Linked DNA regions of Homo sapiens. The protein of the gene in region 1 purifies or fractionates together with the protein of each later gene. This does not show direct contact. Each region holds a gene or a part of one and is shown on either strand. Other genes may lie near its edges.

The links.
Region 2: the proteins of KLRF1 (region 1) and ZNG1A purify together in Homo sapiens (affinity purification with mass spectrometry, with the first as the bait; 2 studies listed by BioGRID). This does not show direct contact.

The regions. Positions count from the first base shown.
Region 1 is NC_000012.12:9,832,943-9,838,190, reverse strand, and holds part of KLRF1 (killer cell lectin-like receptor subfamily F member 1), read right to left. Parts: intron 4,930-5,248; coding exon of another isoform or gene 4,913-4,929; exon of another isoform or gene 4,902-4,912; coding exon of another isoform or gene 4,889-4,901; coding exon 4,739-4,888; intron 1-4,738. UniProt on the Homo sapiens protein: Functions as an activating receptor involved in immunosurveillance upon binding to various ligands displayed at the surface of myeloid cells.
Region 2 is NC_000009.12:161,066-166,313, reverse strand, and holds part of ZNG1A (zinc-regulated GTPase metalloprotein activator 1A), read left to right. Parts: intron 1-1,865; exon of another isoform or gene 1,866-1,911; intron 1,912-2,276; coding exon 2,277-2,336; intron 2,337-3,844; coding exon 3,845-3,882; intron 3,883-5,248. UniProt on the Homo sapiens protein: Zinc chaperone that directly transfers zinc cofactor to target metalloproteins, thereby activating them.

The DNA of each region.
Region 1 (5,248 bases):
TTGCATGCTCACCATATCCCTATGTGGGAGCAGGATCCTGCCGTTCATGGATACAGAGGGAGGTGCAGAAGGAAAGATTGCCTCCAGAAGCTAAGGAGTAGACTGGCACTGTTGTCATGTAACCCTAGTAAGTATTGTAATTGTTTCACCAATTTACCGGAGATTATCCAACCTGGGACCCACTTGTCTTTTGGGGTCCGATATAAACTCTCTTGTTCTCAGGGCTCACCCTGAAGCAGGGGCCTGGCTGTAGGTGGTTTGTTTGGCCTAGCAAAGAGGTGGCCTTGCTATCAGTAGTAATTTTGATTCAAGTCAGGTGAGGTGTTATTTGTAGAATTAGCAGACAACATGTAACTGAGTTTGTTTTTCATGAGTTTCTATGAAATCCAGAGCACCTATGGACTCTTGAATTGTTTTAGCAGTAGATATCACTGCCAGTAAAGAAGACTTAGATATCTGCCTTGAGGCTACCAAACGATGTTTGTAAAAGTTAAGTTGAATGTGTTAGCTTTTGTCACATGAGGCAAGGTATAACAGTTGGAACAAACAATAGGACTGACTGAAAAGCTTGAGAGGAAAAGCCGGGGAATGAGCTGTTTCATGAATAAGGACTTTGGAAAGCTCCCACATAATCCTGAAAATCTGGAAGGCCAGGCACAAGCCCTGAGCTGGATGCATGCTCAGAAATTACCTGAAAAGGTCCTAAGATCTCACCTTTGGCTGACCTTTAAGCTCTGCACACACAAACATTGTGCATATCTATATTTACAGATATACATAAAACTATAAATATTTATAGATATAGAGATACATATAAATATATATGTATTTATAGATATAGAGATACATATAAGTATATATGTATCTATATTTATAGATATACATGCACAATGGACTATTATTCACCCATAAAAAGGAATAAAATGTGGATGAACTTTAAAAACATTATGCTAAGTGAAAGAAGCCCAAGGCCAAATATTGTGTGATTCTATTCCATGAAAATCCAGAATAGGTAAATCCATATAGACCGAAAGAAGATTTGTAGTTGTCAGAGGCTAAGGGGAGAGAGAATGGAGAGTGATTTGCTTGTTGGGTATGTAAGGGATTTATTTTTGGGAAAAGTTTTTCAACTAGATAAACATGGTAGTTCACAACGTTTGAAGGTTCTAAACATCATGAAATTGTTTACTTTTAAAGGTTCAAATTTTGAATTGTACCTCAGCTAAGAAAAGGAATAGGAAATAAATATATTGTAGCTCAATATACAGTATTTATACCTACTTTAATTAATGTTTACTGCCATGTACATGATTCCATGTTTACCTACCAAAGCCGCCTTAATTTTTCTAAGGTGTCATTGCAATGATACCCAACACAGTGACAGACATTACAGATAGGGAGACAATAAAATATGAGGTAAAGCTACAATATCTATTAGTTTGGGAAATATACCTGTAAAACAGACAGATAAGCCAAATGAAGACAGTGTCAATAAGTAGAACATAAAATATATAAAATTTTCACGTATGATAAAGGAGGAAATACGAACTAGTAGATTAGAAAAAAATCCTTTTATAATAATTATACATTTATCTGGAAAGTCATAATATATCATCTCATACAATAAAACAAATGTCAAAATGATCAGTTAAGTATCAAAAAGTTAAACTTAAAAGTAAAGAATAGAACTTCATCAGGGTGGAAGTATTGGAGGGTCCCCTGCCAGCAAAGATCACCTATCCACTCTAAGAGGGAGTTAAGACTGGCGGTTTGGGGATAGCACCAAGAGATATCAGCTGTGATGGCTTGGAAAAACAGTGTAAACCGGCAGTGTAAACAAGAGTAGGGCATTTATAAGTAGTTGAGAATGGTGAATAGGAGTATGACTAGACAGAAGATAGTAGGGATGACTAGTTTTTGGGGCTCGGTCCAAGTAGTGGGGGTAACTTCGTAAAGCCCTGTTGCAAAAAGTAGGGTAAGGACAAACAGACCTAATAGAATGAAGGGATCATTCCCATTCTTATGTCACCCTCTACCTCTCCCCAGCTATCTCCACCACACTACCAACGTTACTTATTCTCTCCTAGCCATTTCTAATCTCTCCTTATTGAACAACTGCTGGCTTTGCATTTCCCTTTCTTCCAGCGCCTACACAGCTGCCCCCACCTTACATGTAGACTGGGCAACATCTGTCTCCCTATACCTCTGAACTTCCTTTAACAGCCCTCACCTTTACCCTCCTGAAGAACTCATTTACTTTCTAGACAGGTCCAGCAAGACCTCCCCAGACATTTCATATCAGCAAGCTGCCGCCCTCCTCCACACTTACTTAAAAAACCTTTCTCCTTATATCAACTCTACTCCCCCCATATTTGGACCTCTCACAACACAAACTACTATTCCTATTCCTGTGGCCACTCCTTTATGTATCTCTCGGCAAAGACCCACTGGAATTCCCCTAGTAACCCTTCACCTTCTCCATGTTCCTTTACTCTTCATCTCCAAAGTCCAGCTATGCATGTCACCGAAACAATTGGAGCCTTCCAGCTCCGTATTACAGAAAAGCCCTCTATCAATACTGGCAAACTTAAAAATATTAGCAGTAATTATTGCTTAGGAAGACACTTACCCTGTATTTCACTCCATCCTCGGCTACCTTCCCCTTGCTCATCAGACCCTCCTCCCAGGCCCTCTTCTTGTTTACTTATACCCAGCCCCGAAAATAACAGTGAAAGGTAGCTCATAGACACTCAACATTTTCTCATATACCATGAAAATCGAACCTCCCCCTCTACGCAGTTACCCCACCAGTCCCCATTACAACCTCTGGTGGCTGCCGCCCTAGCTGGATCCCCAGGAGTCTGGGTACAAGACACCCCTTTCAGCACTCCTCATCTTTTTACTTTGCATCTCCAGTTTTGCCTCGCACAAGGTCTCTTCTTCCTCTGTGGATCCTCTACCTCCATGTGTCTACCTGCTAATTGGACAGGTACATGCACACTAGTTTTCCTTACTCCCAAAATTCAATTTGCAAATAGGACCGAAGAGCTCCCTGTTCCCCTCATGACACCAACACGACAAAAAAGAGTTATTCCACTAATTCCCTTGCTTGTTGGTTTAGGACTTTCTGCCTCCACTATTGCTCTCGGTACTGGAATAGGAGGCATTTCAACCTCTGTCACGACCTTCCATAGCCTCTCTAGTGTCTTCTCTGCTAGCATCACAGACATATCACAAACTTTATCAGTCCTCCAGGCCCAAGTTGACTCTTTAGCTGCAGTTATCCTCCAAAACCACCGAGGCCTTGACTTACTCACTGCTGAAAAAGGAGGACTCTGTATATTCTTAAATGAAGAGTGTTGTTTTTACCTAAATCAATCTGGCCTGGTGTATGACAACATAAGAAAACTCAAGGATAGGGTCCAAAAACTTGCCAACCAAGCAAGTAATTATGCTGAACGCCCTTGGACACTCTCTAATTGGATGTACTGGGTCCTCCCAATTCTTAGTCCTTTAATACCTATTTTTCTCCTTCTTTTATTCGGACCTTGTATCTGCCGTTTAGTTTCTCAATTCATCCAAAACCGTATCCAGGCCATCACCAATCATTCTATACAACAAATGCTCCTTCCAACAACCCCACAATATCACCCCTTACCACAAAATCCTCCTGCAAGTTGACCTCTCCCACTCTAGGTTCCCACGCCACACCTAATCCCGCTCGAAGAAGCCCTGAGAAACATCGCCCATTATCTCTCCATGCTACCCCCCGCACCCAAATTTTTTTTTCGCTGCCCCAACACTTCAATACTATTTTATGTTATTTTTCTTATTACTGTAAGAAGGCAGGACTGTCAGGCCTCTGAGCCCAAGCTAAGCCATCGCATCCCCTGTGACCTGAACGTATATACGCCCAGATGGCCTGAAGTAACTGAAGAATCACAAAAGAAGTGAAAATGGCTTGTTCCTGTCTTAACTGATGACATTCCACCATAAAAGAAGTGAAAATGGCCAGTCCTTGCCTTAACTGATGGCATTACCTTGTGAAAGTCCTTCTCCTGGCTCATCGTGGCTCAAAAAGCTCCCCCACTGAGCACCTTGTGACCCCCACTCCTGCCTGCCAGAGAATTACCCTCTTCGACTGTAATTTTCCTTTACCTACCCAAATCCTATAAAACGGCCTCACCCCTATCTCCCCTTCGCTGACTCTTCTTTTCGGACTCAGCCCGCCTGCACCCAGGTGAAATAAACAGCCTTGTTGCTCAAAAAAAAAAAAAAAAAAAAAAAAAGTTAAACATTTAAAAATAGAAGGTAATGTTTTCAAAATTCTGTATGACTGGAATTTCTAAGCTTAAAAGTCTAAGCTTAAAATCATAATGAATAATTTTTAAAATATTGACTTTTATCCAGTCTGTATTTCAGAAAAAGAAGAATAAATAAGTGACAAACAAGAATGGCTATTTACATACTGCTTTTTAATAACAACTAACTTTCCATATTTATATGTATCAACTGGATTTTAAATTCCTGGAGGGCAGAGCCTATTTCTTGTGTTGTTTTACCATTTTCTCCCACTGCAACAAGTTTAAAGATACCTAAATCGAGTTTTGAATGAAAAGTAGACTTATACCAAACTTTTACTTGTTACTTTAATCTATTGCATACCTGTTCAAAAATACTTCACATTTAGAGAGTCCAAAAGATTAAAACTAGGATAAGCCAAAGCCTTGAGACATACCTGTCTGGTCTGCAGATCTCGAAGCACAAAGGTCCTTATTACTTATATTTCTTCTTGTGCCATTATTCACTTTTAGATCTCCAGTGTCCTCATACTGAGTGGCATTTGAACAACTTCCTTTTTGGCATTTTAGCAATACTCCCTGAGAAACTTGAATACAGGACTATTTTAAGGTTAGGTAAATATCTTCTCTATGGAATGTTTCAGGGACACATTCAATGGAATGATTCCGATGATTGGAACAAGAAATAATTGAAACGGTCACTAGGATCTTTTTAAAATTTTCATGTCTACTGATGGAAAGAATTCAAAATATTATACAATCAATTCATTTATACAACACATATTTGGTGAGAATCTATTCTATGCCAGGCATTCCTACGAACTGGTAATACAATAATAAATAAAGCCAAGTTTCTGCTCTGGGAAGTATATAGGCTCTTTTCATCCTTTCTTAATGTTTTTCTGCAGCCTCCAACACTGTAGTCAGAACATTGTACCATAATTACT
Region 2 (5,248 bases), on another chromosome or scaffold:
GTGGAGGGAAAGAGAAGGGAAAAGTGGTGATTCAGAGAGCCAAATGGGGCAATGTGGCTTTTAGGCTCTGCTCTCTTGAAGTACCAAGTATTTCACTCTTGGGTCTGCCCAACTGCTTATGAATAAAATTCCTTTGCCTTGTATGGGGACATCATTCGACCTCAGAGCTCTCATTTCTCTTTGTTCTGAGCCCTAGAATGTGACCTGACCTTCTCCTTCCCAAAGCAAAGAGATGGTTAAAACTCACTCTTGAAATTTTTTTGTTGACTTTTCCTTGTGTTGCTTATTCATTCCTCGGCTCTACTTTTTGTCATTTTGGAGTGTATTTCTGGTAAGTGTTTAGGATTTTGTAAACTATTTCCCTACAACCTCTTATTGGAGGTAGGGGTAGAGTTGGGAATGACCATCAATCACATATAACTTTGTTTCTTATTTTGACTATCAGTCTTCAAAATTTATGGCAGGCCCTTTTATATTTGGTTGCTGCTAATAAAATGTTGGCCTTTTTGTTTTATTTTTTGTTTTTATTTTTTGTTTTATTAGATTTTGAAGAAGGGAGATTCTAAAATGTAGTTCAGGTTTTCTCAGTGTCAGCACAAATAACATTTTGGGTTGGATAATTATTTGTTGTGAGGGGGTTGCCCTGTGCAGAGTAGGATATTTAACAACATCCCTGGCTTCTACCCACTAGATGCCAGTAGCATTCCCCTAGTTAAGACAACCAAAAACATCTTCAGACATTGCCAAATATTCCCTGGGGAGAAAAGCACCCTGATTTGAGAGCCACTGATCAATTTTGTTCATTCATCTTTACTCCCCCTAAATACCTACATCCAAATTTTAAATAGATCTTTCTCATGTAGTCTGGCAAGTATTATATCAAAGATAAATACCAGTTTTAGAATAAAGCATTAATATACTCTTACATTTCAACTTAAGAGGCAAATATTAACAGTAGGATTTGTAAACTATTTATTGGAATAAAAATCAATGAATTTTTAAAAATTACAAAATGATTTATGTATGTTAGATATTTTACTGAGTGAAAAAATTCATGCTTTTTTAAATGACTTATTGTTTGGAGTAGTGATACAGTAGATTTAATTTCCCCCCTCATTAATTAAAATCATGTTTTAGCCAAGAAAGTGAACAAAATTCTTATTGGCAATTCAGTTGTTTCCCGTTTTGGAGACTGACACGCTCCAGTTCTAAGTTAAATAATTGTCATGGTAAAGTAATTTCCTTGAAAAGAACAGACATTGATTCAGCCCCTGTTACTCACAAATCCTATTTGAGTCAAATTGGAAAACTATTAAGTTTTTGGGAAAAAAATCAATAGGTATCAGGAAACCATTAGATCTTGTGGCCCTTGCTATATCTTGCATGAGTAATCACTGTAAACAGCTGACAGGTATTTCATTGTTGACACCGAGTGATGCTTGGGGGACCACATCTTGGCAGAGTAGGTGGACAGCTTTAGACGCTGGAATGAGTTTGATTATCCTTGTTTTTCTCCTACACTCATTCTTTTAGACAGCCCTGTCACTAACTGGGCCTGTGATGCTTTCAAAAATCAAATACTTTCCTTGCTGTCAGTTTTCTTTTTCTTGCGTTGTGGCATACTAATCAGGGTATGTGGTTTGGTACTGAACCAATTTCTGTCAAAAGCAAGTTTTAATTTATTATTTAGGAAAAATTTTTCCTAAGACCCAGGTTTTATACAGTACTAAATAAATAGTGTGAGGAATAATTAGTAATGCCATAGAGTATATAATTTTACTTCTAGTTCTACACAGATTACAAGTAAATTTTTTTTGGGCAAGTGATTTTGGAATTATCTATGTTTTGTTTTCCTTTTCCTTTAGAGTGATAATTCACTATTTATGATTGAATGATTATCATATTAAAGAGGTGAGAAAATAAAAATAAGTCTGATGTGCACAAAGCCATACTGCTCAAATTGTTTGATAATATCTGTTAATTAAATTATTATGGCATCGGTAGAAGAATGATGTTTTGTTTATATGTGGTTAGAATTGGTCTTTTTTAAAGGAAATAACAAGAGAGATGGAAATGGAATGGGTATAAATAGTAAAAGGTTCTATCACTATAATTCCCTTTTGCTATAAATAGTTAAAGCTTCTATCACTATAATTTCCATAAGAAGATATATGTGTTTACCTGTTAATTTTATCAGGGCAAATTAAAACATGGATAGAATCATGTTTCTCAGTGTGAAGAAATATTTTTATTTGATGAATATTATATATTTTCAGGTGCAGTGGCTTCTATGTTTTGGGTTGATGCTGAATTAGGGAGTGATATTTATCTTGATGGTAAGTTAAAAAACAGTTTTCTTTTATCTTTCTTGTTTTTTTTTTTTTTTCTGAGACAGAGTCTCACTTTGTTGCCCAGACTGGAGTGCATGGAGTGCAGTGGCATGATCTCGGCTCACTGCAACCTTTACCTCCTGGGTTCAAGTGATTCTCTTGCCTCAGCCTCCCGAGTAGCTGGGACTACAGGCGTGCACCATCGTACCTGGCTAATTTTTGGATTTTTAGTAGAGACGGGGTTTCGCCATGTTGGCCTGACTGGTCTTGAACCCCTGACTTCAGGTGATCCGCCAGCCTCGGCCTCCCAAAGTGCTGGGATTACAGGCGTGAGCCACCACACCCTGCCTCTTTTGTTTTTTAGTAAAATCTTTATGGTTAAGCTTATTGTTGTTGTTCATTCATATTATAACTTTAATTCCTTGCATTGTTGTTCTTTTCACACTTTAGTTTAATGATGAAATCTTTGTTCATATAGATTAAAAAACCCCAGACAGTGGTGGAACTCGATGTCACTCAACTTCCAATTTAGTGCTTCCACTAAGGTTTTCTTTAAAAAAAAAAATGCTTTGTAGGTTTTCTGTATCCTCTGTTGTTTGATTTATGCCCTTAATATAATGTTAGAGCCTTTTATTTTAATCCTCCAGGCAATATGAGGATCATATTTTTGCTTTTATTTTCTCTTGAAGATAAGAATTAAACACTCCTGTCTTACTTTATTTACCTGAACACTTTTGGGCAATGATATGCCTTCATTTAAAATATATTAGAAACTTTCTTAGTTAAGCGACTATGTTTTCTCCCTTTCTCAGTCGAAATTTTCTTACTTTTTCAAAAGTAATAATCATTAAGAAATTTAAGAATTATTAAGCTGGGCCCCATCATTGAGCTCTAATATATGTGGCGGGTAACTGGTTGAATTCCTTAGGCATAATTAAACTCATTCTTTTGTTATCAGCATATATTCAGAGATTGCAAAATGAATTGGTAGTTTGGAAACTTAGGCATATGTTATGTAGAACATTTATGAGTTGGATTTGGATTTGGTGAGAGATGTTAGGAATGATACCTTAAGATGTCTCATTCTTTAGGCAATAATTTAAATCTTAAGAAAAGTCTTGATTTTGATTATGTGAAAATAAACTAGAAATAACCTGTCTTATGTACTTATCACATTTGACTATGTTATGAAATTTGACTTATATTTTGGATTGTAAGCTTTTTCAGTGCCAAGGAAATCTTATTTTCTTATTTATTTAATTTAAAATTTTTATTTGTTTTATATCGTTTCTAGTGCCTTAAAATAGTGCTAGCCACTCAGGAAATGCATTGACTTATTACTGGAATTTAATTAAATGGCAGCACTGGCAAGAGAAAAAAACAGTACATTGTTTTATTGAGTAGTATTTGTGAACTGAAATAGGTTAGTTTTAATTTTCATTTTGAAGTATGGTTGTACAAATATTAATAAACATTCTTTTTAAAAAGTGATTAAAATGTTTTTTCCTTTGTAGGTATCATAACTATTGTGGATTCAAAATATGGATTAAAAGTAAGTTGAAAGATTGCTATGAGTGGGTCATTATTGAGAGCTGGGAATATGGGGATTGATTGTTTAATTTTCTTTATGTTTGTATCTGAAATTTTCTTTAACAAAAACCTTTCTCAAAAAGATATCCTGAACAATAGGTGAAATTTGTGTTTTAATTATTAGTTTGTGTTAAATATTTCTTTTCTATTACTCTGAGTTTGATTTGGTGATAAAATTTGGAATTATAATTTGTAATAAGCATATGGGGTTAGGGTAGAGTTTGGTATGTATAACTCTTCACAAGGATTCAACCCCAATATTGGTAAGTTTTTCTGTTCCATAGAAGAAGCTGAGCTTGATAAAGCATCTGAGATCTTATTTTTCTTGTTAAATTACTATTAAACACACACTGGAAATGAGTTTTTAAAAAATATTGAAGACCTAGGTGATGGGTTAATAGGTGCAGGAAACCACCATGGCACCCGTTTACCTATGTAACAAACCTGCACATCCTGAGCATGTACCCTGGAACTTAAAATTTAAAAAGTACATATTGAAGAAAATCAGGATATACACATAGGATTAGTAAGAAGACCCTCTCCATTAAAAGGCATCTTGCATCGCTTCTTGGTCTTTTGGCTAAGATGAAGTGTAAAAGACATCCTGCTATGAATGTTTTTGTTAACTTCTAAGGTCCTAGAATGCATTTAAATGAGGTTTAATTTATAAAATGCATTTAGTAAGATCTTTAAAAGTATGTTGTTACATACAGTAAAATGATGTTTCTCAACTTCCCAAGTGAAATACCACTAAAGGCAGAAAAGAATGAAATCATCCCACCCACTGACCCGTTCCCAATCTGAGCATATGGATAGGGCCCAAAGCAGTAAGTTCTTGGAAGTTTAAATTCAGTGTTTAAAAATTAGTGTCTGTTTTGTATCCAACCTCATATCTGAACGTGTTAATTTTTTTTTTTTTTTTTTTTGAGACAGAGTCTCACTCTGTTGCCCAGGCTGGAGTGCAGTGGCACCATCTTGGCTCACTGCAACCTCCACCTCCCAGGTTCAAGCGATTCCCTTGTCTCAGCCTCCTGAGTATCTGGGATTACAGGTGCACACCACCATGCCCAGCTAATTTTGTATTTTTAGTAGAGACAGGATTTTACCATGTTGACCAGCCTGGTCATGAACTCCTGACCTCAAGTGATCCACCCGCCTCGGCCTCCCAAAGTGCTGGGATTACAGGCATGAGCCACCACGCCCGGCCTGAACTTGTTAATGTTTAAGTTTGCTTTTTTTCCCCAAATCTTTGCTGAAATTATGCTCTAAGGGGATATGTCAGGTTTGTCAAATAGCTACCAATACCTCTTCACTGGGCCTTCTCTCCC